Regions from separate parts of the Homo sapiens genome. Here regions 2, 3 and 4 are each linked to region 1. Evidence: fine-mapped expression QTL. A gene starts in region 1. Each other region holds a variant in brackets. All regions are shown on one strand. Distances are between the middles of the regions. Region 1 holds the start of PIP4K2A (phosphatidylinositol-5-phosphate 4-kinase type 2 alpha). Region 2 has its middle 69 kb from the start of PIP4K2A. Region 3 has its middle 91 kb from the start of PIP4K2A. Region 4 overlaps PIP4K2A (phosphatidylinositol-5-phosphate 4-kinase type 2 alpha).

The links. PIP is the estimated chance that this variant, and not a neighbour inherited with it, causes the effect. A credible set is the group of variants that fine-mapping cannot tell apart.
Region 2: its variant is the best candidate, but not a certain one, in a credible set for the expression of PIP4K2A in atrial appendage (GTEx, PIP 0.82).
Region 3: its variant is the best candidate, but not a certain one, in a credible set for the expression of PIP4K2A in testis (GTEx, PIP 0.87).
Region 4: its variant is the best candidate, but not a certain one, in a credible set for the expression of PIP4K2A in nasal epithelium (TOPMed, PIP 0.88).

What each region holds. Positions count from the first base shown.
Region 1 is chr10:22,711,485-22,719,719 of GRCh38, reverse strand. PIP4K2A (phosphatidylinositol-5-phosphate 4-kinase type 2 alpha) reads left to right here and starts at 5,142. Exons shown (of 10, transcript NM_005028.5): 1 at 5,142-5,537. The coding sequence starts at 5,394. RefSeq lists enhancers at 4,280-4,887, 4,888-5,496 and silencers at 4,657-5,326, 5,627-5,706, 5,877-5,996, 6,297-6,406.
Region 2 is chr10:22,779,574-22,787,808 of GRCh38, reverse strand. It overlaps the pseudogene RNU6-413P. Among named protein-coding and RNA genes, the nearest start is that of PIP4K2A, 69 kb to the right of the region's middle. The variant G/AG (reference allele first, on the strand shown) is at 4,276.
Region 3 is chr10:22,801,639-22,809,873 of GRCh38, reverse strand. No RefSeq gene overlaps it. Among named protein-coding and RNA genes, the nearest start is that of PIP4K2A, 91 kb to the right of the region's middle. The variant C/G (reference allele first, on the strand shown) is at 4,706.
Region 4 is chr10:22,587,697-22,595,931 of GRCh38, reverse strand. PIP4K2A (phosphatidylinositol-5-phosphate 4-kinase type 2 alpha) reads left to right here. Exons shown (of 10, transcript NM_005028.5): 4 at 4,151-4,303. Among named protein-coding and RNA genes, the nearest start is that of PIP4K2A, 120 kb to the left of the region's middle. The variant G/A (reference allele first, on the strand shown) is at 4,548.

The sequences.
Region 1 (8,235 bases):
TTCTTCCATTTGTGATGGCTTTGCCATCTGGATGTGTAACATCCCACCAGGCCAAATGCAAAAGGATGTGGCTGTTGAGGAGGGCATGGCATTCTTCTTGACTGACACAACCACATGCTCTTCTTGAAGTCACACTCCCTTGATCTTCCTCCTAGAGAAGGAAGATCTATGCCTCTCTTCCAGACCTTTGGCGAATGTTGATGGTTTGGCAGCTTGACAAGGTAAGCAGCTTGAACCAGGTGGGCTGAACCAAGAACAAGCAGGACATACACTTTGTCTCATTAGCATGCAAACCCCAAAGGAAAACAGCGATCAAATTGCTAGGTGGCTAAGTCCGCATGTAGTATCTAGCCCTCGAGTTTAAATATTATGTCTAGCCTAATTTCCTAACAAAGTATTTCTGAATGGAACCTTGCACAAAACATTTTCTGGCTACGCAAACTTTACATGTAACTTTGTTATGAGAGATAAAATATTCCTTTTTTCTTTATTCACCAAAATTTCACCACGGGTGCTATGGGAAAGGGAGTATTCAGGGTTCACTGAGACGCCCTAGAAGTGGGTACACCATGGTCCTTGCCTTCAAAGTTTCTTATTGCCCAAGAAATTACTTATTACATTTCTCTAGATATCAATTGTCTATCGAATGCATACAATTTGAGAATTGGATTACACATTTTGAGGTCACTTTGTTCTTCTTTCCTTTTCTTTCTTATTTTTAGAGACGGTCTCACTCTGTTGCCCAGGCTGGAGTGCAGTGGCACAATCAGAGCTCACTGTAACCTCAAACTCCTGGGCTCAAGCGATCCTCCTGCCTTGGCCTGCCAAAGCTCTGGGATGACAGGCGTGAGCTAAGGTCATTTCTGTGACTCTAGAACTCTTGCATCACACATACCCTCCACAGAGCACAAAGCTAATGTGAAAGGTTATTGGCAAAATCATTTAATAAGGCAGGAGATGGCTTGAGGTCAGGAGTTCAAGGCTGCAGTGAGCTGTGTTCTTGCCACTGCACTCCAGCCTGGGTGTCAGAGTGAGACCCTGTCTCAAAAAAAATAAATAATAAAATAAATAAATAAATAATTTAATGATGTATTTGTGAATGGTATTGTGTTAGATGGCTTTCAAAACATGTTAAATCACCAGAAATTCTGTCCTTTGAAACCTGCAAGTCTCCTCATAACTACCTAAAAATACCACACTATGCCCCTATCTGTCCCTCACATGGTGCTATTGGCCTCTGCACCCACCCACAGATTGCTGCTTTCCTAAGGCGGAGCCTCTCCTAACAACAGGTATCCATCCCCTCTTCCTCTAGGGTCATTCAGCACTCTGTCATCACTAAATTCAGTTTTTTGGCAGTTGCAGCAAGCCTATTGTCTTGCATTATTAATATAAAATTAAGTATAATATAGCTATTATGAAACAAATAAATGCTATGGAAGCACTGAGGTGGAAGGATGAATTTGAATTAGGAGGATCAGGAAAGCATCAGGGAAGAGAGGATTTTTGAGTCTAATTGTTTTCAAGGGCAGGATCCAATAAAGGAGTTTAGGTTGGGTGGTGGTGAAAGGCAATAATTGATGATGATGGTAAGCCTTCAAGCCTGGCCAATGAAAATTTGTTAAATAAAAGAACTTCCAGCTGGGGTAACCGAGTGATATGAATGCCATTTCCAATATAATACAAGAAATAAAGTAACTTGTGGATGGGGAAAGATGTCAAACTTGGCTTTAGATATCTTTTTTTTTTTTTTTGAGATAGGGTCTTGCTCTGTTGCCCAGGCTGGAGTGCAGTGGTGCAGTCATAGCTCACTGCAGCCTCAGTGATCCTCCTGCCTCAGCCTCCCAAGTAACTGAGACCACAGGATGCATACCACCATGTGCAGCTAATTTAAATTTTTTTTTTTTTTTTTGGTAGAAATGAGATCTCGCTATTATATCCAGGCTACCCTTGAACTCCTGGGCTCAAGTGATTCTCCCATCTTGGCGTCCCAAAAGTGCTGGGATTACAGGCATCAGCCAGCATGCCCAGATGGTTTTAGACACTTTTAAAAGATGCCTGTGGAAAAATGATGTACAAATGTGCAACCAGGCATTTCTCTGGGGTCGGGGAAGAGTTTATGAGTTACTTGCAAGCACTCTACATTTTCTATTGTGTTGTCTGGTTTACAAAGGGTTTTCATTGCCATTATCTACTATTGATTTTGATTCTAACAAACATCCTATAATGTAGGTAGGGGAGGATTATATTACTAGGTTCAAAATAGTTCCTAAAGTGACATTTGTGTCTGATGATAGTTACTGTTAACATAAAGAACCCGAGGCTGGGAGAGGTTAAGTGATTTGCTCAAGTAAGTGGGAGAGCTACAGCTCAGTCCCCGTGATGTCTCACTAAAAATTTAGGTTTTGGGCTTTTTTAAACCACTAAGAGCAGTGATGGTTGATGCTGGAGAAGCAGATATCATTTTGGATGAAAGCAAGCAGGAAATTACGACGAGGGGACTTAAAAAACAGTCAAAGAAAGAATAGGAGCAAATGAAGGTGACCACATGACCTCCCCTCAACCCCTGAGGAGACTCAAGATCCTAAAGGGATAATGGCCTGTCATCCTTCATCTCCCTGACAGGACCAAGCAGTCTGCCAAGGGCACAGAAGGTATCTACTATATTTGAGTGGAGTAATAATGACAACAGACAACTTACAGCGGGTCCTCAAATACTGTCATTTTGTTCAATGTTGTTTTGTTATAATGTTGATGAGAAAAAAATGGATTTCTAGCCGGGACCACTGTTTGTATTTGCAGGTTCTCCTCGTGCCTGCAAGAGTTTTCTTTGGGTACCTTGGTTTCCTCTCACATCTTAAAGACATGCACGTTCAGTTCATAGGCTTGTCTACATGATACCAGTAGTTTTTCTTTTCTTTTTTTTTTTTTGTTTTAAGAGACGGGGTCTCCATCTATTACCCAAGCTAGAGTGTAGTGGCATTATCACAGCTCACTGCAGCCTCCAACTCCTGGGCTCAAGCAATCCGCCTACTGCAGCCTCCAGAATAGCTGAGACTACAGGTGTGTACCACCATGCCTGGTTAATTTTTGTATTTATGGTAGAGATGGGGTTTCACCATATTGCTCAGGCTGGTCTCCAACTCCTGGGCTCAAGCAGTCCACCTGCCTCATGCCTCCCAAAGTGCTGGGACTACAGGCATGAATCACTGCCCCCTTCCTAAATGGTCCCAGTTTAAGTGAGTGTAGGGGTGTGTGTGTGTGTGTGTGGTGTGTGTGTGTGTGTGTGTGTGTGTGTGTGTGTCTTGCAACAGAATGGCATCCTATCCAGGGATGGTTCCCACCTTTTGCCCAAGCTGAGCAGCTGGGATAAGGCTCCCACTATCTGTGACCTTGAACTGGAATAAATGAGTTGGAAAAATGAATAAATCCGTGAAACAAATGACTGTAAAATAAAAATATGTAAGTGTACATTAATCATAAAAATGCACGACAATAAATGAGATAGGAGTGCACTCAGCTACCATATTTGTGATTGTTTTTGAATTTCATGGTAGCAGCAGGTCCTACAGGCAACTTTTGCTTTGCAAACACTTATTCCTTGACTTAACCCAGCACCACAGCAACCATCGCTCACTTAATCACTAGAAATTTGGCAAACCATTATCTTGTTTTTATCAATCTTTAAAAAATGTAGGTAGGCCAGGTGCAGTGGCTGGTGCCTGTATTCCCAGCACTTTAGGAGGCCAAGGTGGGCAGATTCCTTAAGCCCAGGAGTTCGAGACCAACCTGGGCAGCATGGTGAAACCCCATCTCTACCAAAAATACAAGAAGTTTATCCAGGCTTGGTGGTGCGCGCCTGTAGTCTCAACTACTGGGGAGTCTGAAGTGGGAGAATCACCTGAGTCTGGGGAAGTAGAGCCTGCAGTGAGCTGTGATTGCACCACTGCACCCCCAGCCTGGTTGACACAGCGAGACCCTATCTCAAGGGAAAAAATAAAAATAAAAAAGAGGTATAGCTCACATTTATTTTAATGTTTAATATTAGAAGTGTTTTGAATTTTTACTTTGAAGTTCGGTGATGTTTTTGTAACCGGAAATAATGCTGTAGGAACTTAACTCTTTTTTTATATGTCAGCCTATGGCAAATTTGGTTTTGTTATATGTTGTTTTGCTTAAGGTGACAGTTTCCAAGAACCTACTCCGTGAGGACTGGTGAGCTGGGTCAGAGTAAATAGCACAGGATGACGACTGCAAGGACGATATGGGGGCAGCAGGGTTTTAGACATACTTGGAATGGCAGCTTCCTGAGGTAGGCCAAGTATTCTCAGCATAATAAGGGCTACATTTAGGTGTATCTGGAGGAAGACGGTGAACAGATTTCCACGGACGGTGAGTGCACTGGAAAACAGGCAGGGATGGCAAGTACCATAGTGATGGATTGGAAGAAGGTGCACTTTGGGGCATGATTCTACTGGTTAAGCCAAGGGCTCTCGATGAGGTCCGAGGTTCCTGCCCCGGGCACGGAGTGGGTTGGCAGTGACAGCCCAGCCTATTACGTGGGAGTCTCCCTCTTGAATGGCTCCAGGAGGCCCATATCGAGGGTCTGAAAGGCCAGACGGTTATCCGCACAAAAGTATTAAGTTCATTTCAGGGACTGACCCGGCAATGTGCCCGGGTCCTTCCCCTCGGTGCTGGGAAGCCCTGGTCTCCCTGCAGCATTTCACACCTGGCTGGGTCTCCTGACTCGTGGCGTGGGTGAGTGCATGAGCCTCCCTCCTTCGCCTGATCGACGCCTGGGGGCTCCTCTCCCCAACCTCCTCACTCTGCCCACTCTGTCCTCTCCCTCCTTGGGGAGCGGCAGGGGACGCCTAGCCGGGGTCCCCAGGCTCCCGCTCGCAACCCACGGCCTCCTCCGCGGGCAGGGAGCGAACGCCCGGAGGTCGCCCGCGCACAGGGGGCGGCCCGGCTGCAGCGGAGCCGGGGCGGGAAGGCGCAGCCTAACGGTCCAGCTGCCGCGCCCCGCGCCCCGCACCCAGTGCCCCGCCCGCGGCGCCGCAGCCGCCTCCCGCCTGCCCGCCCGCCCCCTGCGTCATGACGCCGGCGCCCAACGCGGAAGCCGCTCGCCGCGCGCCGGGTCCAGCCGCGGGCTGAGCGCGGATCCGCGGCGGGCGCAGGATACGGGCCGGGGCGCGAGCCGAGCGCAGTCTGCCGGGCCGAGCGGGCGGAGCGAGCCGAGTGGGGCTGAGCGCGCCGGCGGCGGCGGGCGGAGCGGAGCGCGGCGCGCCGGGGCCGCCGCCGGGGGGATGCGGCTGCCTCCCCGGGCCGGGGTGTAGAGAGGGCGGGTCCCCGGCCTCGGGAGCACGGCGGTGGAGGGGACATAGGAGGCGGCCATGGCGACCCCCGGCAACCTAGGGTCCTCTGTCCTGGCGAGCAAGACCAAGACCAAGAAGAAGCACTTCGTAGCGCAGAAAGTGAAGCTGTTTCGGGCCAGCGACCCGCTGCTCAGCGTCCTCATGTGGGGGGTAAACCACTCGGTAAGGGCTCAGCTGCGGCGCGCGGTCCCCTTCCTCCTCCTCCTCTTCCTCCTCGTTCCCCTCCTCCTCCGGCTGCAGCTGCTGCGGGGCGGGGAGCCGGAGTCAGCCCTGGACCTCCGGCTGCTCGCCCGCCTCGAAGCCCCCAGCCCCGCGGCGCGTGCCCCCAGCCCTCTGGGCCGCCCAGGCACCACCACTTGCGTCCCCTTTAGATCTATGGCCCGGTGCGGGTCGGGGGTCCCGTGTGCATGTGAGTCTCACGGTGGGTGCCAGTGCCGCCCCCGGTCCGCCCGCCCGCCCGCAGGTCGGTCCCCGCAGCCTGGGAGGTAGGAAGTTTGTGCGGGGCACGGCGCCTCGGCTGTCAGCCCCGGCGGGAGCTGCTGGGGGCCGGGTCCGGGCGACCGCTACCCGGTGTGGGGGCCGCGCGGCGCCCGCGTCTTCCGCTTGCGGGCAGGTGTACCTGTCCCGGGCTGGGCGCGTGCGAGCCTCCCACTGGGGCACTGGGGCGAGGATACCGGAGCGCGAGCAGATTTGGGGCAGCAGCTTTAGTGCTTAGGTCCTTTCTTTTTCCTTTAAAGGCAATATTACTGGGCACAAGTCGGCTTTTTGGCAAAGCAGCAGCCGATGTAAATATGGCTCTGGCGTCGGGCGGCATCCCTGCGCTTCTCCCGCATCGCCCTGCCGCTGTGCGGGCTGGAGAGCCCTTGGCGGGGAGTCTTCCTCCCTTCGTCGCCTCCCCCCACTTTGGGGAGTCAGGCAGAAGTCACCGACTGCGGAAGGGCGGCCGGGGCGGGGACAGCAGGCGGGGGTCCCGGCGGGCGCGGGCGGAGGGGGTCCCGAGTTGGCCGCACCCGCTGTGGGGGGTGTGGGAAAGGCTGGAGAACGCGTGGAAAGGTTAGCGTCACGCACAGTCGGGGATTGGAGGATGCGCCGCTGCGGGCTATGCGGACTGCGGTTCGAGGGTCTGAAATAGCCTCCTGCTGATCTGACAGCGAGAAACTCCTGCAGTTTTAATCCACTTCGATAGGATCAGGAAACATGATCGGAGCTGTTGGCTCAGCCAGGAAAGTTTAAACGAGCTGTGAATTTTGACCATGACCTTAGCCACTGCAGTCACTTAGCATCTGGGGAAAAGTGTAAGTTCGCTTTCCCTGCTTTTGATTTCGATGGATGTCTGTATGTCCTTTTCAGCGTAATGGAAATGACAGAAAACCATGCTGGTTTTTCGGAAAACACACACACAGACACACACACACACACACACACACACACCCTCAATGTAGTGAAGTTGTTTAAAATGCCTAAAAGCATCGTTTTTGTATTTTTCTTCCCCAAGCTGAGCAGGGGGAAGGGCAAAACAGTATCAGGATCGATCGTGTTTGCATGGAGTGAGTGTTTTTGGAAAAGTTGAGAAATGATTATTTTTATCCAGCTTAATGACTGACTCACTGAAGTTCATTTTAACTTCCTGGCAACTTCTTTAGCTATTTGGGAATGTAAGTTGTTACAAGAGCATGCATTACTGCACCAAAAACTCCTCTCTCAAGTTTTATTACGGAAAATGAAATGCAATTTTTCCTAAGTAATAAGTTTACAATGTAGAGTTATGTATAATTTTGTTAAGCTCTTTTATTATTTATGTTAGTAGTTTTTGGGTCCCTTATTACTAGAATAGAAACTTACAATTTAAAAAAAGGATGAATACTGTAGTGCTTACTCATATTTATGGTGCTTTTATCTCCTTTGGAGTTCTGGTGTTTTGGTCAGGAGAGTGTTTCTGTCTCGGGGTTTAATTTAGTAAGGTAGTGTCAACAATATGCTGCCGAAAAAGAGTGTGCTTTCTGGGAACTCGTCTGAATTCCAGTTTGCCTTAAAAAATCTTGTAATTGTGTATGTTTTACTGTAACCACTTACGTTGCTACCTTATATTTATGAATTGCTACATTTGTTTTAGAGTTTCTTGCTAATTGGAAATATTTTGAAACTACTTAAGTGTTTCATAGTGTATGACTTGTAAATAGTACATTTGGTGTTATTTTCTTTTGCTCTCAAGAGAAGTTGGCAGTTCTAAGTATCCACAACCAGAGGAGTGAAGTTTCCATTTCATATAAATGTAAGCATGTTACTCATTCAACAGATATATATTGGGCACATACAGTGCCAGCTACTGTGGGAAGAATTGCTAAAACACCTCTAATATTTTTATCCAACTGTCTTTATTTTGAGGGCTCTGAGTTGACATAAGAAAGGTCTGTTTCACAGCCTTTTTTTTCAAAATGTCTATTTTCTTTACTATATTATTTTTGAAAAAAGAATGGAGGTGTAATATAAACATGAAATCTAAAACCCTTAGATGCCATGTATTTCTGGTTTGATTTCATTTTAGGTGACAATGTCTGATATTAGATAAATGTTTTATATGACCTTCTGTGCACCAAAGTTTATAGTATAATGTGAGAATAAATATGTCAGCAGTCTTAAGAACAAACAAGCATGGTGTTGTATACGAGCATCTTCCACATACTGTGGTAAAACGCTCATTGAATCTGCGCTTTAAGTTTTTCTTAAATTCTAACTGTTGACCTTGGGCATGTTAAGGTCAGGTTTTGGCATCAGTGTTTGCATCTGTGAACTGAGGTTGTTTGGATGATTTCCAAGTCTAACTCAAGATTCTGTTTTTTCAGTCTACTAGGTGCACAGT
Region 2 (8,235 bases), 68 kb before region 1:
ATGCAGATATAGATGATGTATTTTTAATGTATATATAAAAAGAGATTGAGAATGGTGAAGCAAATGGGGTAATCGGAGTAAACTCCTGCAAATTTTTTGTGTTTAAAATAATTTCCAAACAAAAGTTTAAAAATTGGAGTTAAATCCTAAAAGTTATCTTTCACTCCCATCTCCTCTTCCAAGGAGTAAGCCAATATTAACAGTTTTATATGTGTATTTCTAGACCCATGTCTATGTTTTTTATTGAGGTAAAATATATATAACATAAAATCTACTATTTTTAAGTGCACAGTTGAGTGCATTAAATACAAAAATGTGGAACTCTTCTTGAATTTGTGTGTCATCCTTGTGCAGGGGCCAAGCCAATTTTGTCTGTATTATTCCAATTTTAGTATATGTGCTGCTGAAGCAAGTACTCCATGCATTTTTAAACATACATGTTCCAATATTATAAATGTAACCATATTGTACCAAAAAAGAAAATGAAAAAGAAAGATGTTCCTAGTAAAATGAGAACAACTATTTCATCACCAGCAGAACTGCAGAAATGTTAAAGGAACCTCTTCAGGCAGAAAGAAAATAACTTGTAAAAATTTTAATTCACACAGTGTAATAAAGAACACTGGAAATGGCAAATATAAAAACATGTTTTTCCTACTTAATCTCTTTAAAAGATATTTGACTATTTCAAGCAAACGTAACAAAGTCTGTGGATTTCATTACCTACATAGAAGTAAAATATATTACAACAATGACACAGAGGACAGGAGGAGCAGAATGAAAGTATGCTGTTGTAAGTTTCTTACATGTCATGTGAAATCATATAATGTTATCTGAAAGTAGGCTGTGATTAGTTAAATATTGTAAACCCTGGAGCAACCACTAAAAAGAAACCTTAAAAAAGAAGAATTGCTAGTAAGCCAATAGTGGAGAGAAAATAGAATCTAAAAATAATTTGATTAATATGAATGAATAAAGGAACAAAGGAAAAAGAAAACATAAAATAGATGGGACAAAGGGAAAACAAATATCAATATGGTAAATTAAAACTCAACTATATCAATAATTCTATTGAATGTAAGTGGTCTAGACAGTCCATTAAAAGATTGTCAGATTGGATTAAAAAAGTAAGACCTAACTATATGTATGTTGTCTATAAGAAACTGACTTTAAATATAAAGACATGGACAGGTTAAAAAAAAGAATAACAAAACATTCCCCAAAATGTTACAAAAAAGTAAAAGAATGTCATGCAAGCATTAAGCAAAAGTAAGAGAATTGGCTGTATTAATATTATACAAAGTAGATTTCATATTGGGGATCATAATGGGAAATGGATCAGAAAACACAACAGTGCTCACAGAGCTTCAAAATATATGAAGCAAACACTGGTAGAAGTAGAAGAAGAAATAGACACAATTACAGTTATAAACTTCAACACTCCTCTCTCAATAATTGTTAAAATATGTGGGAAGAAAACCAGTAAGGATGCATGAAACTTGAACAACACTACTAACTACTTAAATTAATTGGCATTTATAAAACACTCACTCAACAACTGCAGAATAAACATTCTTTTCAAGTGTACACGGAGAATTTATCAAGATAGACCATATTGGGTCCATAAAACAAGTCTTAATACAATTTAAAGGATTAATTTCTAAAATATATTATCTGACACCAATAAAAAAATCACAAGTGAAATAAGAAAATATTTTGAAAGGCATGAAAATGAAAGCATATTCCCACACATATAAAAAGTGTGGGAATCATTTAAAACAGTGCTAAAAAGGAAATTTATAACTTTTTTTTTTTTTTTTTTTTGAGACAGAGTCTCACTCTGTCACCCAGGCTGGAGTGCAGTGACACAATCTCGGCTCACTGCAACCTCCACCTCCTGGATTCAAGCGATTCTCCTGCCTCAGCCTCCTGAGTAGCTGGGACTACAGGCATGCGCCACCATACCCGGCTAATTTTTGTATTTTCAGTAGAGATGGGTTTTCACCACCTTGGCCAGGCTGGTCTTGAACTCCTGACCTCAGCTGATCCAACCGCCTCGACCTCCCAAAGTGTTAGGATTACAGACATGAGCCACTGCACCCGGCCAGAAATTTATAAGTTTAAATACTTATGTTGGAAAGTAGAAAACTTTATAGTTAAATGTCTACATTTCCACCTTAAGAAAATAGAAAAAGAAGAGCAATTTAACCCAAAGTAAGTGGAAGGGAAGAAATAACCAGAAATCAATAGAATAATAAATGGACAAACAGTAGAGAAAATCAATGAAAACAAAAACCAGTCTTTGAAAACACAGCTGGTAAATCTTTAGCCAACTTAAACAAGAAAAATAGATAAAGAACACACAATTACAAGTACCCAGAATGAACAATTTCTATACCCTACTAAAAGGATAATAAAAAAAGTTATGAATAAACTTAAAACAATAAATTCATCAAATTAGATAAAAATACATTCCTTGAAAGATCAGAACAACTAAAGCTCACTCAAAGAGAAATAATTTAAACATCCCTATTTATATTAAAGAAAGTGAAGTTGCAGTCATAAACCTTTCTACAAAGAAAACCCATAGATTCAGAGGCTTGACTGATGAATTCTACTGAATGTTTAAGGGAGGAATAAAACCAGTCCTGCACAAAAGCATAGAAAGAAGACTTTCCAGTTCACTTTATGCGGCTAGTTTTACCCTGATAACACTAGAAAAAGAAATTTAAAAGGTAGAAAACTACAGACCAATATTTCTTATGAACACAGACACAAAAATCCTTAACAGAATTTCAGTAAATCAAATCCAGCTACATATAATAAAAGAATACATCATGAACAAGTGGGGTTTATCCTAGAAATGTAATATTGAGTCAACATGCAAAAATCAATAAATATAATTCATCATACTAGCAGACTAAAAAGGAGAAACTGTATGATTCATATAGTTTCATCTTAAAAGGTGCAGAAAAGCATTTGACAAATTTCAATACCCATTCATGATTTAAAACAAACAAACAAAAAGCCCTTAGCAAACTAGAAATAGGAGAAAACTTTCTCAATGTGATAGAGGAAATCCACCAAAAACCTACAGCTAATGCCATAATTTAAAACTGAATTATTTTCTCCTAAGATCGGGAAGAAGGCAAGATGTTCCCTCTTGTCACTTCTATTCAGTGCGTGTTTCCAGTTAATGTTATAAGGCAAGAAACCAAAATAAAATTCCTATCTTTGGAAATGTATATGTAAAACTGTCACTATGCACCAGCAATGTGCCTGTTGATACAGAAAATCCAAAGGAATCTACCAAAAAGTAACCACAGCTAAGAAGCAAATTTAAACAACGTCACAGGATACAAGGTCAACATACACAAATCAATTATATTTCTATATGGTAGCAACAAACAATCGGAAATTTACATTTTAACAATATGTTTAAAATGGCATCACAAAACATGATTTATTTAGGAATAAACATAACAAAATAATGATGGTATGTATAGTAACCAAATCAGTCTTTTCCTTTTCAGCAGTTTTCAGTTATCTACAGTCAACTACAATCCAAAAATATGAAGATATTTTGAGAGACCACATTCACACAACTTTTATTACAGTTTGTTATAATTCTTCTGCTTTATTATTAGTTATTGTTACTCTCTTACTATGCCAAATTTATAAATTAAACTTTATCATAGGTAAGTAGATATTAAAAAAACATAGGATATATAGGGGTCAGTACTCTCCACAGTTTGAGGCATAGCTGGGGTTATTGGAACGTGTCCTCTGCAGATAAGGTTGGGCAACTGCACAGAGAAAAGTCCAAGACTTTGCTGAGATAAATTAAAGAATATCTCAATAAATAGTGAGACACACATGTTCATAGTTCAGTTGACTTGGTATTGTTAAGATGTCAATTCTCCCTAAATTGTGAGTCAGTGCTGTCTCAATCAAAATCAAGCGAATTTTTTATGTAGAAATTTATATAGAATTGCAGGCGGGGCGCAGTGGGTCACGCCTGTAATCCTAGCACTTTGGGAGGCCAAAACAGGCAGATCACCTGAGGTCAGGAGTTCGAGACCAGCCTGGCCAACATGGTGAAACCCCTAAAAATACAAAAATTAACCAGGTGTGGTGGTGCGCTCCTGTAATCCCAGCTACTCAGGAGACAGGCAGGAGAAACTCTTGAACCCAAGAGGCAAAGGTTGCAGTGAGCTGAGATAGCACCACTGCACTCCAGCCCGGGTGATGGAGCGAGATTCCATCTCAAAAAAA[G/AG]AGAAAAAAGAAATTTATGTAGAAATGCAGAATCCTAGAATAAGCAAAATAATTTTGGAGAAAAAAAAAGAACAATCACTGGTCAATTTCAAGGCTTACTATAAAGCTAAAATAAGACAGTGGGATGTTAGCATAAGGACAGACATATAGATCCATGAAACTGAGAGTTCAAAAATAGGCCCACGCATAAATAGTCAATTGGTTTTCAGTTTTCAATAAAAGTACCAAGATATCAAAAGGGAAAAGGTGATTCTTTCTTCCTTCCTTCCTTCCTTCCTTTCTTTTTCCTTCTCTCTCTGTCTCTCTCTCTCTTTCTTTTTTTTTTTTTTTTTTTAGACAGGGTCTTGCTCTGTTACCTAGGCTAGAGTTCAGTGGCATGATCACGGCTCGCTGCAGTCTCAACCCCTTGGGCTCAGCCTCCTGCGTAGCTGGGGCTACAGGTATGTGCTGCCACACCCGGCTGATGTTTTAGTCTTTTGTAAGGGGTCTCCCTATGTTGCCCAGGCTGGTCTCCAACTCCTGGCCTCAAGTGATCCACCTCAGCTTCCCAAAGTGCTGGGATTACAGGCATGAGCCACCGTGCCCAAAAATGCCCTCAATGTCTGACACAAAATGTATTCTAGAAAAATTGACACAAAATGTATTCTAGACCTAAATGGAAAATCTGAAACCATAAAACTTCAACAAAACAGGAGGGAAAACCTTTGTGATTGGGGCAAAGATTTCTTAGATGGGACAAAAAGTGTACAAACCATGCATTAAAAAATTAGCACATTGGAGATATCATCAAAATGTGAAACTTCTACTCTTCCACCTTATTTTTGTTGTTGTTGTTGTTGTTTTTTAGACAGAGTCTCACTCTGTCACCCAGGCTGTAGTAGTGTCGTGATCTTGGATCACTGCAACCTCCACCTCCCAGGTTCAAGCAACTCTCCTGCTTCAGCCTCCCGAGTAGCTGGGATTACAGGCACCCGCCACCAAGCCTGGCTAATTTTTGTAATTTTTTTAGTACAGATGGGGTTTCACCATGTTGGCCAGGCTGGTATTGAACTTCTGACCTCAAGTGATCAGCCCACCTCGGCCTCCCAAAGTGCTGGGATTACAGGCATGAGCCACTGCACCCAGTCTCTTCCACCGTATGTTAAGTGAAATAAGCCAGGCACAGAAAGGCAAGTACTATATGATCTCACTCATAGGTGGAATCTAAAATGTTGTTATCATAGAAGTAGAGAGTAGAATAGCAAGCAGTTACCAAAGGATGGGGAGGGGTCTCAAAAAATAATACAGTTAAGAAAGTGAAAAGGCAAAACACAGATTAGAAAATAAAGGACTTACGTCCAGAATTTGTAAAGAATCTCAAACTTCAATAATGAGGCACAGTCCTTGATTTTTTTAATTGGTAAAAGATTTGAATAGACATTTCCCCAAAGAAGATGTACTAATGGCACAAAAAGCACATCTAAAAAACACTCAACATTATTCATCAGCAGGGAAATGCAAATAAGACCACAATGGGCTACTGCTATACACCGTCTACAATGGCTAAAATTGTTTGAATTGGCAATATCAAATGTTGACAAGGTTGTGAAGCACCTGGGACTCTCATACACTGCTAATAGGAATGCAAAATGGTCCAGCCAGTTTGGAAAAGTGTGTCAGTTTCTTATGAAGTGAAATATACATTTACCATATGATTCTGCAACTCTATTCCTAGATATTAACCCAAGATAAACAAAAATGTATGTTCACTTGAAGACATAAATGTTCATAACAGCTCTCTTCATAATAATCCCAAACTGGAAGCCCATCAAAGGTCATCAGCAAGTGTATGGAAAAGCAAATTGTAGCACACTAGCTGGCAATATAAAGGAACAAAGTGATGCATGCAACAACGTACCACAATACATTATATTTTGCTTGTTATTGTTTTTACTTCCCCTCCCACCACACTTCTACCACTGTAAACTTGAAATCAGGAATCGTTTCCTTTTTTCCATCATATTTCCAGTGCCTAGCACAGAACATGATACTTAGTGAGTGCCCAGTAAATATTTGTTGCCCATGAAGTTCTTATTTATGCCAGATTTGCTTGTATAGTCTCTGGCAATGGGTTCTTTTCTCATGCACTCTGTCTTGGGGAAGACAACTAATTCATTTTCCTATAAAAGTACACTAACTCGGGCTGGCCGCAGTGGCTCACACCTGTAATCCCAGCACTTTGGGAGGCCGAGGCAGGTGGATCACCTGAGGTCAGGAGTTCAAGACCAGCCAGACCAACATGGTGAAACCCGTCTCTACTAAAAATACAAAAATTAGCCGGGCGAAGTGGCAGATGCCTGTAATCCTAGCTACTTGGGAGGCTGAGGCAGGAGAATCACTTGGACCAGGAGGCCGAGGTTGCAGTGAGCCAAGACTGCACCATTAACTCCAGCCTGCGCGACAGAGTGAGACTCCATCCAAAAAAAAAAAATACACCACTAACTCCTTGTTTGATTACATTAATGTGTGTGCGTGCGTGTGTGTGTGTGTGTGTGTAAAATAAAGCTCCAGAAGTGAGCTCTTTTTTGTGGCACATTTCAGGGACTTCCAGCCTTCTGACTTCGGGATGACTGGTTGGCAGAGTTTACAGGGAATGAAAGCCCCTGGACTCCCACTTCCTCCTCCTTTCCTCTTGATCCACAAGAGGTTTGAGCCAAGGTTCTCTCAGCCCTCCTTTTTAGGCTCAGGCGCTGTGCCAGCCCCAGCCCAGTCCCAGGGCTGAAATTATTTGCTCCTTTGCCCAAGCTTTAGGAGCCAACTTGCAATTTGGCTTTTACAATATGTTCTGACTCTTTCGAGTGTGGTTTGGACTCATCAATATTCATGAGCTTGCAAAGAAGAGGTTCTCATCCCCAGGGAGACTGTGTGGTGGTAGAAGGACCCTTTCCTCAGTCTCACTATGGCACTGGCCAGGCTACCATCTGCACAGAGAATAGCTGTACAGATGCTTCTTGAGGAAATCCTTACGCTTCTTCCAGATGGAACAGACCTTTCGTCCTTGAGTTTGGATATTTCGGCCTCCAGAGATGAGTACTCAGAAGTCCATGTCACCGTAGAAGATACTAAGTTTTTATCTCCTGGGGACTCTGATGTGTTTTTCATTCAGTTTTTTAAAAATGTGTTCCCAGGTCCCACATCCCACAGCAGCTAAGAAGAGATGCCAGGGCAGAGAGCAGTGTCCTCAGTGACAGAGGTTGCTGCACTTCACTGGGCTGGCAGCCAAGGAGATTGCTTTTTCTGGGGAGTGGAATAGATTACTATTTCTGCTTGTGTGGGATTTTATTTCTGGTTAGGTCATGAACTTCTGATGCACACATGTCTTTGCTTTTTTTTAATTCAACTAATTCATTTTCCACTAAAAGTATACTAACTCCTTGTTTGATTACATTAACGTGTGTGTGTGTGTGTGTGTGTGTGTGTGTGTGTGTGTGTGTGTAAAATAAAGCTCCAGAAGTGAGCCCTTTTTGTGGCACATTTCAGGGACTTCCAGCATATGAGGGCCTCCTTCTAGCTACAATAAGATTATAATGCTAGAATGATTCTTCACATTTTAGTACACACTGTGCTAGGCATTGCGTTAGATGTTTTGCAAGGTTTATATGCTTTAATCCTTACAACACCCATGTGTGGTAGACTAGTATAGACCCACTTCACAGATGAAGAAACTGAGGTTTATTAAGACAAACTGATTTGCCCAAAGTCACCTCCAGGAATGACAGAGCTGGCTTTCAACCTCAGCGATCTGATGCCAGAACCATTCCTTTTATCTCCATGTCTTGAGACTGATGATTCAGTTCTCAGAATAAGACTATCCAACAGAGAGGAAGGACAGCAGCCACCTCTAATTCCATGTTATTGGCTGCAGATGAGCCACACACTGCTCTAAGGTAAGGGTCAAAGTGTCTGGACTCTGAGTTAAGG
Region 3 (8,235 bases), 90 kb before region 1:
CACCTTACTCCTGCAAGAATAGCCATAATTTTAAAAAATCAAGAAATAACAGATGTTGGCAGCGAGGTGGTGAAAAGAGAACACTTTTACACTGCTGGTAAGAACGTAAACTAGTACAACCACTATGGAAAACAGTATAGAGGTTCCTTGAAGAACTAAAAGTAGAACTACTATTTCATCCAACAATGCCACTACTGGGTATCGACCCAGAGGAAAAGAAGTCATTATATGAAAAAGAAACTTGCCGAGTGTGGTGGCTCACACCTGTAATCCCAGCACTTTGGGAGGCTGAGGTGGGCAGATTACTTGAGGTCAGGTGTTCAAGACCAGCCTGGCCAACATGGTGAAACCCAATCTCTACTAAAAATACAAAAAATTAGCCACACATGGTGGCACACGCCTGTAATCCCAACTACTTGGGAGTCTGAGGCAGGAGAATGGCTTGAACCCAGGAGGTGGAGGTTGCAGTGAGTTGAAATTGCACCATTGCACTCCCAACTGGGTGACAGAGCAAGACTTCATCTCGTCAAAAAAAAAAGAAAAAGAAAAAGAAACTGCACACTCATGCTTATAGCGGCACAATTCACAATTGCAAAACTATGAGACCAGCCTAAATGCCCATCAGCCAACAGTGAATAAAGATAATGTATTATCTATGATACCATGGAATACTACTCAGCCATAAAAAGGAACAAAATAGTGGCATTCGCAGAAAGCTGATTGGAGTTGGAGACTATTATTCTAAGTGAAGTAACTCAGGAATGAAAAACCAAACATTTTACGTTCTCGCTTATAAGAGGGAGCTAAGCAATAAGGACACAAAGGCATAAGAATGATATAATGGGCTTTGGGGCCTGGAGTGAGGGCAAGAAGGATGGGAGTGGGGTGAGGGATAAAAGACTACACATTAGGTACAATGTGCACTGCTTGGGTGATGGATGCACCTAAACCTCAGAAATCACCACTAAAGAACTTTTCCATGCACCAAACACCACCTGTTCTCCCCAAACTATTGAAATTTTAAAAGAGAACAGTAGAGCAGGTAATTACGTATAAAAACAATATAAAACAAACAAAATACCAAAACAGCCTACCTCCTAGGATTGTTATGAAGATTTATTGAAATAATATATATGAAGTGCTCCAAGCCTGGCATATAGTAAGTACTCAATAAATACTCTTTTTAATGTAAATAAATAAATAAAAAATATTTACTTCAGAAGAAAACACAGGAAAATATTCTTGTGGCTTTGGGTTAGGGCAAAGATTTTTTAGATGGGGGATAAAAAGCACAAACTATAAAGGAAAAAAACCTGTTAAATTGAACTCCATCAAAGTTAATAATGTTTGCTTCTTGAAAAATACCATTAAAAAATGAAAAGACTTCATTTTGGGAGGCCAAGGCGGCCAGATCACTTGAGGCCAGGAGTTTGAGACCAGCCTGGTCAAGATAGTGAAACCCCGTCTCTACTAAAACTACAAAAATTAGCTGGGCATGGTGACACATGCTTGTAATCCCAGCTACTTGGGAGGCTGAGGCACGAGAATCACTTGAACCCAGGAGGCAGACATTGCAGTAAGCTGAGATGGCACCACAGTGAGCTGAGGGTGCACTCCAGCCTGAGTGACAGAGCAAGACCCTGTCTCAAAAATAGAAAAGAAAAAAAGAAGAGACAAGCCATGGATTGGAAATCTGTATTTATATATGAATATAAAATAAACATAGATATGACAAAAGATTTGTACCCCGAATATAAAAAGAACTCTTAAAACTCAAGAAGAAGAATACAAATAATCCAAATGGAAAAAATGGGCAAAAAAAGTTTTGACTACACATTTACGAAATAAAAATAAATGAATGGCCAAGAAGCACACAGAAAGATGTTTATTTAATATCATCAATCAGTAGAGAAATACAGATTAAATCTAAAATTAGACAACAAAATGCATCCATTAAAATGGCTAAAATTAAGATAACACCAAGGGTACATGAGGATGTGGTGTGACTGGAACCCTCATCTATTGATGGTAAGAATGCAAAATGCTGCAAATCTTTGGAAAAACAGTTTGACAGTTTCTTTAAAGTTTAAATATGCATTTACCATATGCATGTACCAACATACCAATGTACCGACATTTTCATCCCTGGATACCTACCCAAAAGAAATGGAAACATATGTTCACGTAAAGACTTTCATGTGAATGCTCACAGTAGCGTTATTCATAATAACCTCCAAAATGGAAACAGCCCAAATGCTTACCTATGAATAAACAAAATGTGATGTATCCATACAAGGGACCCAGCAATAAAAAGAAATGAACTACTAAAATGAACAACATGAATGAATCGCAAAAACACTTCTGCTAAGTGAAAGAAACCAGACACAAAAGAGTATATATTGTATGACTTCATTGATAAACACTTCTATAAAAGCAAAACTACAGTGACGGAAAGCAGATTACTAGTTTCCTTGGGCTAAGGACTGAAGTGGGGGTAGAGACTTACTGCAGAGGGGCTCAAAGGAAGGTCTGAGAGTGATAAAACTGTTGGAAACCTTCTTGTGATTATAGTTGCACAACTGTGTGCGTTGACCAAAACTCATCCAACTGTATACGTAAAATGGACAATTGTAAATGACTTAGAACTCAATGAAGTAAAAAAAAAAAAAAAAATTCCTTCACAATCTAAATCATTTCCTTAAGCTAGTTATCTACACATGGTAGAGTTTTCTACAGTGTTAAGTCTGCTTTTTATTGCTTTTGATTAAAGTTTGATCTCTGTGTGTGTGTGTGTATGCATGTGTGTGTTCCAAATATCCTCTTTCATTGAGAACTAAAAGTATTAACTAAATTATTCTTCTGTTTCATGAACAAGTCTGTGTCATAGGGGGAAAGGTTTTTCTCTAAGCATTTATAAATTTACTGGAGAATTTTTCCAGAATTCCATTTGTTTTCTCTTTTCTCATTCTAGAGCTTGATGTGTTGCTCTTTGATAACTATGAGAGGCTCTCATAGTTGAAAGGCTCTCTCCAAAGCCTGCAAGTTTGGAAGGAAAGGCTGAGGGCGCATGGAGGAGTAGGTCTGTGAAGCTTGGGACTAAAGAACACCAAGCAGAAAGCAGGCCCAGGCTGGAGGATGGGACACCACTCCCCTGAAAATGGACAGCAAGACTCCTCCGAGTGTGGCCAAAGAACATCCAAGCAGGGCAGTGCTTTTCAAGACCTGTCACCAGACTCAGAGAACAGAGATTGGAGCTGGTCAAGGTGAGCTTGGGCCAGGGCGGGGAAAGGGAAGACAGAGGCAAGGGAAGGTGCCGAGGCAGCAGGGGCTGCCTTTAATTTCCCCGGAGGGCAGAGAATTGGAGACATGCCTATAGAATCTGGAACAGTTTCAGTTCTTCTGCTTCTCACAGTGGCTACTAGACATTCTTTCCTTTCCAGATGGACACATCAAAGGCTGGGAGAGGAGACTTCTGCTCTTCCCATGCCTTGACCCCTCTTCTAAGTACTCCAAGCACTCTCTGTTGGAGCTCCTGAAATCCCTAAGCAGGATGAGTTCCTTGATGAGATCCCAAGGTACACATGTGCTTAAGGAGACTTGTTTTTTCAAAGAAAAAAAAGACAACAACAATGTGAACAGTGTCCTTACATCTCTAAAAATTTTTTTTTCCTTTGGTTCTCTTCATGTGGGCAATATATTCCTAACAAAGGGATAATGAAATAACTAATTTTCTGAGTTGCATCTTAGGAGCATCTGCTATTAGAACTGGCCTGCTAAAATCTCATTCTTCCCTTCTAAATTCTGTCTTCATCTCCATTCCTGCCTTCTTTCTCATTTCTTACACCAAGTAATTGTACCAGGATGCACCCTGGTACAGGTGCATTCACTGCAATGTTCTGCTCTGGAGGACAGAGCCCACGTTAAAGGGCATCTGTGTGTTTTCAATGCATCTTGTCCCTTTAGTGACCATTCCTCAGCTATTGCTAAGTTTCATTTAATTGAGCTGGAGTCATCATCTGGGAAAGGCAGCGAGACCAACAAGAATACGAAAGCCTCTCAATAAACCTTCAAATGTAGGTGGGAAGGGAGAAATAGGACTGTATTAGAGGATAATTTCAGAAAGTAGGCAGGAACAAAGGACTTGCAGAACAAACAGACTCCAAGAGAGTCATGTACGAAGCAGCACCTGCTGATGACTGCAGAAATGAAGAGACGGTTATTATCTGAATACTCCAATAGACTGGCATATTGTTCTGGCCCAGTGCCAGGCGCACGTGATGATCTGGCTAGGATTATTAGAGCTCTTCTGTTAAAGCACAGATCACATGTGTGCTGAGAATGTGTTCTTTCTCTGGATTTGAGGTGACAGACAGCCATATCACATGCCATCCCTTTTTCCATCCTGATTCCAGCCAGGCAGTAAACCAAATCCTCACCCAGTCTGTCTCCACCATGTGGTTTCCCTAGCCAGCTGAACAAAATATTTTCAGAATGTGGAATGTAAACAAAGTTCCTACTGTTAGCAATTCTGTGTCATTTACTTGTGGTTTATTTTATTTTACTTTAAGTCACATTTAAATTCAAAAGATTGCCAGCCTGCATGATGCATGTAAACAAATCAGAAATATAGATTAGAATTGCAACTGATTAGTTAGCTGTGAACGTGTCTGTTCAAATGGAAGAAGGGAGAGGAAAATCTATTATG[C/G]TCCTGGGATATTGCGTCTCCAAAGGAAATTCATTTGTGAGAAGGGCTTTAAAAGCAATGACTTCCGTCATTTGTGTTTTCTACACACTGGTTACTGTAAAAGCTAATAGAATACCTAGGCGGAATCTCTGCTTGGGCTCACGTAACACAGCTTCACAAGGAAACACAGGGAGCAATTGCAAGAGGGAAAAGGAAGACCTGCAAATACACCTTAGCAGACGGTGATCACAAAATATGTGTCCCTCGCACTACTGGAGATGTTTTTCAAGAAAATTCTATTTTCCAGGTTTCTTATTTTTGATTGTTTAAAAGTATATGTCTACAATGCATGATGCTGAATGATAAAGGTTGTATGAACCTTCTGATATTCACTAACAATCTGAATCAAAGTCGGGCATGGTAGCCTCAGCCCTTAGGGAAGCCAAGGCAAGCAGATTGCTTGAGCCTTTTAGTTAGAGACCAGCCTGGACAACACAATAAGACCCTGTCTTTACAAAAAAATAAGAAAAAAAAAATTAGCCAGGAGTGGTGGCATGTACCTGTAGTACCAGCTACTTAGGAGGCTGAGGTGGGAGGATCACTTGAGCCCAGAAAGTCAAGGCTGCAGTGAACTATGATCACGCCACTGCACACTACTGTGGATGACAAAGTGAGACCCTGTCTCGAAAAAGAAAAAAAAAAGGAATCCAAATCAAGATTTGCCTTTGTTTATACATTTCATCTAAAATATCCTCTGTCTTCCAAATCAATAGGGAGCTAAAGTGGGCATAACAACTTTACTATTAGGTAAATATTAGTAAAATATTTACCCACAGACCTACACGAGTAATGTTTTCCTAGCACAGTGCCATGAACTATACATTTTCTAAAATCTTGTTGACACTTTAATTACACCATCCACCTTGTTTATATTATTTGGAAGCTGGTAAGCTAATGTGAAAATTAACTGAATGATACATTTCTTTGAGTTCTTCTTGGTATCTTCTGAATTGTGGTCAAGTAGCAATCCTAGGACCCTAGATGAGCCAGGCAGCAGCAGACGCAGATGCCGGTGAACTCACTGCATTTCATCTTCAGTACTACCTTCTTCACTCAAAAGTAATGGCTCACCCAAGGGGTCTTATTACACTTTCTCAAGTTATAGCAGCTGTATCTTGATTCACAAAAGAATCTTCCTCAGAATAAAGCCCCGTGGAAAAAGGTTGTGTGCCCTACAAGATTAGGCACCTGGAGGATTGGAAGAACAATCACCTTGAACCACACATTATTTGGATCATTTGGCAAAAGGAAAAGCAACTTCCTCTAACGGGTGAGATTTGAAAAGTTTTCATCAGAGAAGGAGAAATAGATAGCTCAAGAATGGGAACTTAAGTCATGCGAGAGGTAAGAGAGAGGATAATCTGTGTTTTGAGATCAGTGGCTCTGCAGATAGATTTTGGTTCCAAGCCTGAGCATTCCTACATAGAAGAGTAAAACTTCATTCTTAAATAAAGCCCTGGAGCCAAATAGAACATTCCTGCAGGGTGACAAATAGAAGCTTAATCTTCCCATACATTTCTGATTTCTTTTATAAACAAAAATTTCAACTCAATCTTTCATTAATTTGTTCTGAAAACAAATCATTTATGATCAGTTGTGGAATATTTATTGTCAATCTTGTTGAGTTACTGTAGCACATTTGTCTATGTTTTCTGTGTCCAGAATCTCCTATTTTTGGCTGTATGCCCCACTTTTTGTTTCTTATAGTGCATGCATGAACAATATGGAAGTCTGACTTTAATTAGGCATTCACTTGTAAGCCACATCTTGAGCATTTCATTGAGAACTGTTTTCATTGTGAATAATTCTTACTGAAAGAAGAGTGTTGCTTAGCTCTAACTTGAATCTCCTTGATCTAAAATTAAAACCATGCTTGTCTATTTTATTATGAGGAGAAACATTCATGCTTCCTACTTATAATTTCAACTTGGCTCATAGAAGAAATGGCAACTACCTACACCCCATCAAAGAGTTTTGGGGAGGGATATTGAAGAGCTTGACATCCATTTGACTGCCTTTCACACATGATGTAGTGTTTCTACATCTGTTTTGCCCAATCGGTTTTGCCCAAATTCTTCATTTCCTGATAGACTAGAAGAAACCATGTTCTTTGCTGCTTCCTGTGCCCTGAGTGTGACAATGTGCAGTAAGACCTACTTGGTACTCCTCCCCCAAGGGTACTCTAGGGACTGGAAATATTAAAAAAAAAATTGGTGGGCCAGGAGCCCTACTTTGGCCCCTAGTTGGAATTACGTATCCCTAACATTTTTCCTGCACTGGAGATTTAAAAAAGCGGGAGAGAAGATTTGTTGATCTGGCCATTTTACGAAATGTGCCTGTTGATCCCCATAAGATAGGTCTGCATTGAGTGCATCCATCAGAGGTTGAAGAAGGTAGATGTTGCAGCCTCCAACATCTAACATCTATATATTGTTGGAGAGATTATCGTTCTTATAATTGTTGTACATGCAAAGTAAGGCTGAGTTAGCCCTCAACGAAATCTTGACTGTGCACCCACAGTGTTAGGCACTTTGTGAGATCCTAAAGAGAACAAGCCCGGCTGGGTGTGGTGTCTCACGCCTGTAATCCCAGCACTTTGGGAGGCTGAGGCAGGAGGATCACCTGAAGTCAGGAGTTTGAGACCAGCCTAGCCAACATGGTGAAACCCCATCTCTACTAAAAATCCAAAAAATTAGCCGGCCGTGGTGGTGGGCACCTGTAATACCAACTACTCGGGAAGCTGAGGCAGGAAAATTGCTTGAACCTGGGAGGTGGAGGTTGCAGTGAGCCAAGATTGTGCCACTGCACTCCAGCCTGGGCAAAAAGGCAAGAAGGGCAAAACTCCATCTCAAAAAACAACAACAACAGCAACAACAAAAAACAAACCCTGCTTTCTAGCCCCAAGATTTATCTCCGTTGATTCAAGCAACTTTACTATTATCCTTAGGCATTAGTTTATAAGATATTTATAATTTGATAGCTTCCCTTGTGGATATTTCTAGTTTCTAAAACATAATTCTGAGTGTGCACAGAGAATTCTGCTAGGGTCTCATCAAAATGAAATATGACTTCCTGATCTTGCAGAGTCAAAATTTTCCAGTTGTGTTAAACTTTAAAAATAGCTTCTTTCTCTAAACAACAGGCCCCTCTTTGGCTGTTAGTATAGCATCTGTGAGTAGATCATGCTCTCTGCCATTCTCACACTTCTAGAGCCATCCAGCTGGGAACTGCTCTCCCTGACTCAAACACAGATGGGTCGTGCATCTTACCACTTGAGCCACCTATTTTGCTATTTAGTTAAAGAACAGCACACAGGTCCAGGGCAGAGCTATTGAAGAATTTAGATTAAATGTTACTGGCTGGTTCACACTGTAGTGCTGTATAGAATTTTGGGTATTACAATGTCTCCAGTGTTTTTTTTTTTTCAATTTTTGGTAAAATGGCTTGAAGTTATATTGATAGCACATTATGATACTACTCTGTCCCAGCTC
Region 4 (8,235 bases), 120 kb after region 1:
GCCCGGCTGAGTAAATCCATTTTTAGAGTCATAAAAGATCCAAGGTAGAGGTCTAATTCAGCCTGTTCTCTCCCCAAGCTTATTTTCCATCACTTCATAGACCCGGAAACTAAGGCTCAAAGAGACTAAATGCAATCTACAAGAACTGATGAATGTTCTAGATCTCAGACCAGTGCCCTCACCATTACCCTGTGCTGCTCAGGTTGGAGTGCGGTGGTGTGATCTCGGCTCATTGCAATCTCTGCCTCCCAGGTTCAAACAATTCTCGTGCCTCAGCCTCCCAAGTAGCTGGAATTACAGGCATGCACCACCACACCTGGCTGATTTTTGTATTTTTAGTGGAGACCGGGTTTCACCACGTTGCCCAGGCTGGTCTCGAACTCCTGGCCTCAAGTGATCCGCCCACCTCAGCCCCCAAAGCGCTGAGACTACAGGCATGAGCCACTGTGCTGCCTTTAAAAACACATGTCTGCTGCATGCCTTGGAAGAAGGCAAGAAAGTAAATGATAATAAAAATACATAAACAATTTTACTTTATTTTAAAGGCTACAAAAAGTCTATGATTATGATGACAGAAGTTTAGTCTTATCTTTGTAAATCGCCCTTTTTGGTTAGTTCATAGAAAGCTTTAGACAGGAATCTTAGGCACATTGCTTGGCTCCATTGTACACTAGTTTCTTTATCTTGAGGTGGGAAAAATGGATCTAGCTTTTCCTCTCTCACAGGAATATTGTGAAAATAAATATGAAATAATGAGTTGGATTTTTCCAGGCCTTAGAATCATTCCAAGGATCAGGTGTTTTGTATAGAATTGCATGAACTCTTTTGATTTCCTCCTTATCAGATAAGGCTTTTAATACACTTGATTTATGTATTTTTATATTCATAGTGATATGAAAGGTACATTCTATGTTTTGACACAGTGTTCCTAACTTCATTGGTTATTTCATGTTCATGAACCTTAAAAATATTCAGATAGTGTGGGTTGGGGCTACTCACGTGGATTATTAAAATGGTGATTTGAGACAGAATCAAGATTCGAATTTTTAAGGTTTTATATCCCAGGGTGAAGACATGGCTGATATCCTAATCCAGTGTCTGCATATATGATTATAGTAATGCCTTTGAAATTGAAAGAAAAGGCACAAACTGGGGAAGAGGTAGTATCTGAGCTAAGGAGTTCCTACATTATTTGCTTTTACGTTTCCAGCCCTTTATAAACCCATATGTTGCGCTGGGCATGGTGGCTCATGCCTGTAATCCCAGCACTTTGGGAGGCCAAGGCAGGCAGATAGATCACTTGAGGCCAGGAGTTCGAGATCACCCTGGCCAGAATGGCAAAACCCTGTCTCTATTAAAAATAAAAAAATTAGCTGGGCATGGTGGCACATGCCTATAATCCCAGCTACTCAGGAGGCAGAGGCACGAGAATCACTTGAGTCCAGGAGATCAAGGCTGCAGTGAGCCAAGATCGCACCACTGTACTCCAGCCTGGGCAACACAGTGAGAACCTGTCTCAAAAAATAAAAATAAAAAACCCTGTACATTGTCCTGGTACTGGTACATAGTATTATTAAACCCTTCTTTAATTAGTAAAGTAAATGCCATGAATTATTATTCTGAACTATAAAGTTTCCCATTTTAATCGAACTAGAGGTGTAGAGAATATAATGGGAAAGGCATGAGTGCCGGTAAGTCTGTAATTATAATGTACTTAATACGCTAGACTTTACGTGCTGCATGCCAGTAAAACACAGGGTAAACACCATTCTGTAGACCTTGGTTCTCATGTGTGGTCTGCAGACCCACTCCAGCAGCAGCATCTACTTCTGAAAATGCCCCACCCCTGACCTGCTGGATCAGAATCTGCATTTTCACATGATCCCTGGGTGATTCAGTTGCTTGTTAAGTTTGAGATGCACTGACTATGCAGCTTTTGATTCACCCTATTGGCCCATGAGAGGACGTTATACTGTCCTATCTAATGTGCATAAGAAAACGATCTATGAAACTGAGGCTGCTGGAATTCTATCCTGTGCTGAATACAGTTCTCCTTTACTATTCCCCATCCCCCAAAAGTTGTTTTACACGTATTGTCAGTTTGACAGAGTTTAAGGTCTGTTCCACTTGGTCTGCTCCACCTGGCTTTCATAAACTTGATTGTTCCCACTTTGATTTTATGCCCAAAGATAATCTGCAATCTTACAGTTCCTAGAGTTCTTGTTTTATTTGAAAGAAATACCCTTTTGCAAATTAGTGATTGCAAGAAAAAAGTAAGACCACTAACAAAGAGCAATAATTGCTTTTTGGGGGCTAGCATTTAAAACCCCACAAGGGGAAATTCACTTTGATTTTCTTCCTTTTTGTTCTAAGTGGGAAGTAGTATAAAGGAGATCTTGTTCATGTTTTAGGAAAGAAAAATGTAATTAAGAATTAAACTCTTGTTAATGTAGGCATTTTCATCCTGAAAGTCATTTTTATCATTCTCAGTCTATCTAATAAATTTTAGTTGTCTTAAGAATAACTGAACACTGCCAAGTCTTGCTATTTAAAGTCATTGGGGATTATGTAGATTTTTTTTTTTCCTTCTCTCAAGTTTTCTAATAAGCTAAGGAAAGCAAATTCAGTTACTTGGTGGCCTGGACTCTGCATCTGGCAGGTGCGCCTGCTTGCCTTCAGATCAAGGTGTGCTATTGCAGAACGTGTGATCCACCACAGGGGGTGCCAGGGTGGTGAGGTGAGAATCCTGGAAGATGAAGATTTGCTCATGGGCCACTTTTCTCTTCAGGCATAGGTAGGGCCTGCGTAAACCCCTGCACTGCTGCAATGGATTCTACCTCAGGTGGTTCAGTCCTGTTGATTTCATCTAGAAAGGAAGGAAAGGATAAAGAGACTGGAATATACTAGACAGAAAGGCACTCTTTCTTTTGCAAATTCATGGGCAGAGCTATCTATCACCTGCCCCTCTGAAGGTATCTGTGTTCCCTTAACTTGACAGCATTTGGCCACTGAGGCCTTTGAATGCCCACTTCAGAGAGCAAGTTAAAGAGAGAAAGCATGTTTGCCTTTGAATCCCACACAGGCCATCCCGCAGGGCCAGGCAAGGAGTGAAAGTCACTGCTCAGGAGCAGTCGGCAAGGATGGAGACGAGACTTTCTGGGGGCCAGGGGTTTGCTAGACCCCATGGCTGGACGGCCATTGTCAAGAGGTTGGGGCAAGGAGGAGGCTTCTTGGAGGATGTAAGAAAGAGGAGATCTGAACGGAAGAGTCACATGGGAGGAGAAGGGTAGACCTACCTAGCCAGTGTCACTAGCATGAACCAGATCTTGGAGTGAATGATGTCAGCAGAGCCCCTACTCAGAGCCCGTCCTTGTCCACCCTCCAGGAGATCAGTAGTTCTCAAAAATGGTGGTAGGGAGTGGAGGATGGACCAAATTCAAATCGCCTAAGGAGGAGCTGTTTTAGAAGACACTCTCCCAGGCTCCTGCCTCCTCCTCCTGGGGCACACAGGTAGCATAGTCTGCAAGTTAAGTACTTTACTAGTTGAGTAGTTTACTAGTTGAGAGTTTGGATTCTGAGCCAGCCACACTGGAGTCAGAATTCTAGCTCTTCCCTTATTAGCTATATGCCCTTTGCCCAGATACTAAGCCTCTCTTATTCCCATCTCCTCATCTGTAAAATAGTGATGATAGCAATCGTAACCATTGCATGGGAATGTTATCAGAATTGGGGGAAATAATCTGTGCAAAATGCTTGGCACGATACCTGTCATATAAGGAAATGCTCAGTGACTGTAAAATTTTCTTTTATGACTGGAACCTAATTTTATTCAGAAGAAAACTTTGAGAGCTTGTCCAACTCTGAAAAGAACTAAGTGATTAAAGTTACTTTGATTATAATTCTAGACATTAGCCTGCTTTAAAGATATTAGAATCATAGTACAATTCAAGCTGTTTTCATTTCATCTGAAAGGCTTGCAATGTGAGTTATGATGCATGTAAAAATGTTGTCATCCTACTTATCAATTTATCCCACACACAAATGTTTTTGAAAACTTGCAATGATGACAAATTATCTGGGAATCGGAAAGCCACACCTTTAACTAGTTATCTTCCCCCGCCTTCCTTCCCCTCTTACCCCACCCGGGAAGAATTCCCTGACCAGGAGCGCACCCCTCCCCAACGACTCCCAGGCCCGCAGTGGAGCTCGTTTTCACACTTCCTACGACAAAAGATACATCATCAAGACTATTACCAGTGAAGACGTGGCCGAAATGCACAACATCCTGAAGAAATACCACCAGGTAATTTTTCTTGATCTTTATTTGAAACTCCAAGAAGATTAACATGCGTAGCGATTTCTCACCAAGGCCAGAGATTTAAATATATAGTTAGAGAACAAGAAGAACACATTTCACATAAACATCTCCTCTAACCCTGTGTTCTAAAATTACAGTGGCCAGATTCCTGGCAGTTAACCTTTAGGCATGCTTGTGCTATAAAGGTCATTCATTATTTGTATAACACTTTTAACCTAAATACTCTTGT[G/A]TAATAGTTTCAGTTATCACTACTCTGATTTTAAAATCATTCAGCTTAAGATTTGGCAACTTTGCAGAAGTTTTTGCCTGTGCCAGAGATTAGGTGTTGACCTCTGAGTATGTATCTATTTACACCTCCGAATCCTATTTTGCTGTCACTGGTTCTTCTGTCCTGGCCCCAGCAGGGCCCACGCCATTCACAATCTGCTACGGAGCAAGCTCTCTGATTTTAGAAGGTGGGTGTTGGTCTGCTTCTTGCCCCCTTTTCATCCCCGAGCATAATTCCATTGTAATCACTGGAGGTAAAGTAGACCATCCTTGGGAGCAGCAATCTGTCTCTCCTGGAGTAAATTCCAGCACAAGCTTCTCTGGTAGAGCACATGTTCCCAAGGCCCAGCCCGCGCTGTGAGAGGCCTCCTTCACCATGGAGTATAAGAGCATGAAGTCCAGCGTTGGACAATCCTGGGCTCAAATCCCAGCCAGGTCGCTTACTAAGCATGTGACTTCTGGTCTTGGTTGTTTTTTAGAGACAGGGTCTTGCTCTGTTGCCAGGTTGAAGTGCAGTGGCGTGATCACAGCTCACTGCATGCTCAACCTCCTGGGCTCAAGCAGTCCTCCCACCCCAGCCTCCCAAGTAGCTGGGACCACAGGTATGCACCACCATGCCTGGCCAATTTTTTTAAGTTGTGTTTTTATAGAGGTGGAGTTTTGCTATGTTGCCCAGGCTGGTCTTGAACTCTTGGGCTCAAGCAGTTCTCCCATCTTGGCCTCCCAAAGTGCTAAGGTTACAGGTGTGAGCCTCCACACCCTGCCTGGATTTTGAAGCCACAGTTTCTTTGTTTATACAGTCGGGATAATAATAACACCTAATATGGATTCTAAAGATTAAATAGGAAATTGCATGTCAAGTGCTTAGCACAGTGTCTGTCACACACTAGATACTCAATGTGTGGTGGTGGCCATAGCATCGCTATTATCAAGATAACATCCATGGTATAAAAATAACGTAACAACTAAGTCACTTGGAGAAATTGTAGTCATATGGTATGAACATGTCTGCTGTTGCAACATCCCAGGAATCATCTTCACAACTGGTGTTTAAAACACATACACACATTGTTGCTTTTAGGACCTTAGTCAGCTTGAGCTGTCATAAAAAACCGTAGACTGGGTAGCTTAAATGACAGAAATCTATTTCTTACAGTTCTAGAGGTTGAAGTCTGAGATCAAGGTGCCAGTATGGTCAGGTTCTTCCTGGTTTGCAGACAGCCAGCTTCTCACTGTAGCCTCACGTGTGTTGGCAGGGTCATGGTGGGTGGGATAGGATCAAAAGCACTCTTCTGTCACTTCTAATAAGGGCACTGATCACATAATGAGGGCTCTAAGCTCATGACCTAATTAGCTCTCAAAGGTCCCACCTCCTAATACCATCACTTGGGGATTAGGGTTTCAACGTAAGCATTTTGGGGGACACAAACTTTCCATTCATAGCAGAGTCACACGGTGTTTTTAACTTAAATAGCTCCCAATCCCCCAAAGGTAAAAATTGGCTGTCACAATGGGTATTCAAAATAAAGTGCCGCAGGTCCTGAATATATTAATAAAAGGATTCTCGAGTATAAACAATCACACTTACTAAGTATCTGCTTCGAAGGCAGCACTGGCCTGGACTTGTGAGCTCCTAGATGTCTGTTTAAACATCCCTTTAAAAGCATTACTTTATGTTCATGCATGATGCTCTAATATCATGGATTCTTTCTTGGCAGTTGCTTATTCTTCCAATCTTTGCAAATATGATCAATTGCATTTTGCTTGCAGTGAAGTCTATAAAAATCTTTGAGCTATATTCTGTTTCTTGAAACTTGGTACTGCCTCTAGTTTGTTTTCTAAAATCATTAGCCTCTAAATTCATTTAATATCTAATAAATCTTTTATAATATCTATTCCTTTTGAAATTTGTTCTACACTGCTTATGCTACTGCCTCTTATTCTACAGGAAATTTTAAAGTGCCAGGATGCTACCTGTGAGGGGGAAGACATGAGGCTCTGTTATCTGAATGAATTGAATTACAGGTTGCAGCTTTGAACTCTTCACCTTTTAAACTGTCTACTTTTTCATTTTTTCCCCTCTGGAAATTGATATCATACTTATGCATTCTCTTTATACTTTCTTTCAGTTGTCTCAGAACATTCAAAGCGAAGTGATATCTCATGACTGATGAGAGCATATTGTTCTAAAAAATGGCCATGATACCATGCTAATAAAATGTGACACAGAATTGAAGTACCAACTTCTTGATGACAACTTTGAGTTTAGCATCCTTTGACTTTACAAAAATCACGATTTGAAATGTTTTCTCTGGGTTAGTTATTGTAACCTAACATAGGGATTTGACATATCCCCAGTGTTACATAAAATAAGTGTGGGATCAAAATAAGTCTATTGACACCTCCCAGGGGCTTTAACAGTATAAAGACTTCCTTCTGTTCCACTGCTACAAAATTGTTATCTTATTGGTGAGTTCTTTATTCAGAAAAGTCTCCTTTATCCAACATCTATACTTTTTCTTTTTATAAACAGAATATTTTAAATATAATTTGTAGGGTCTTAATGATTGGGAATCACATTATTAATATAAATTATTTAAAGGGCACTAAGTAGAAGTCAGGAGACATAGATCCTAACCTGTTAGGAACTGCCTCTTGGATGATCTCTGAACTCAGCTTCTGCACCTGCATTTCATTCATTCATTCATTTATTCATGTATTCACTCTTGACCTTATTCCAGAAAGGATTTAAGGTGGCCTTCAAAGAAGTTGGAAATACAAGCTAGAATAAATGAAAAAAAGAAAAGGAAGAGGCAGAAAGATAAAGGCACAAAATGGAGCCTGGAATGAGCGTAGATATTCATGCCAAGATGACCAGCATGCTTGATACTTTGAGTCTGTTGCCAAGGAGAAATGTAAGTGGTCTTGGTACTAAGATGCAACAGGGTTGACTCTAAGGAGTTCCCCACAGAGCGGACACAGGGACATCTGACCTGATAAAACAACATCCTTGCCACAAGCTGAGAAACATACAAGAATGTTAGAGAACTTAAAAAAAAATTGTCCGTATAGGCTGCTAATTATCAGTATAGGCCATGTATAAATACAGCCACAGTTGCAGCACCGTTTTGCTAATTTGTCCATTTTTAAATTACATTTAAACGAAAGCAAATTAAGAACAAGGAAATGTATAGGTGACACAAACGTTGACCATTAAAGGTGGACATGCCACTCATATACATCTCAGCAAAATCTCACATAGAAGAGGTTTTTAAAAATACAGCAGCAGTGAAGAGTAACAGTGTTAATTACATGATCAGAGAATTCCACAGAAACCTCATAAAAGGTCTCAACATTCACACAGCTTATTTGATACTGATCTATTCGGGGTGACCCCTGCTAGGCTCACTGAGGGCAGGTCTGGGACCCTGCTCAGGTTGGCAGGTGTTCATGAAGGAAGATGCAGTCCGCCGAGTCAAACATCACACCCGCAGCAATTAGCAAAGGCCACACCAGTGTGTAGTTTACATTTAGTAAATGCTGTTCTACAGAGAAAGGCTATAATGCACACCGGCTGCCTAGCCCTCTCCCATTCTGGCTTCTGTTTGAATGTTCTTCAGGCTGTTCTTCTTGTATGCCACTTCCAGACG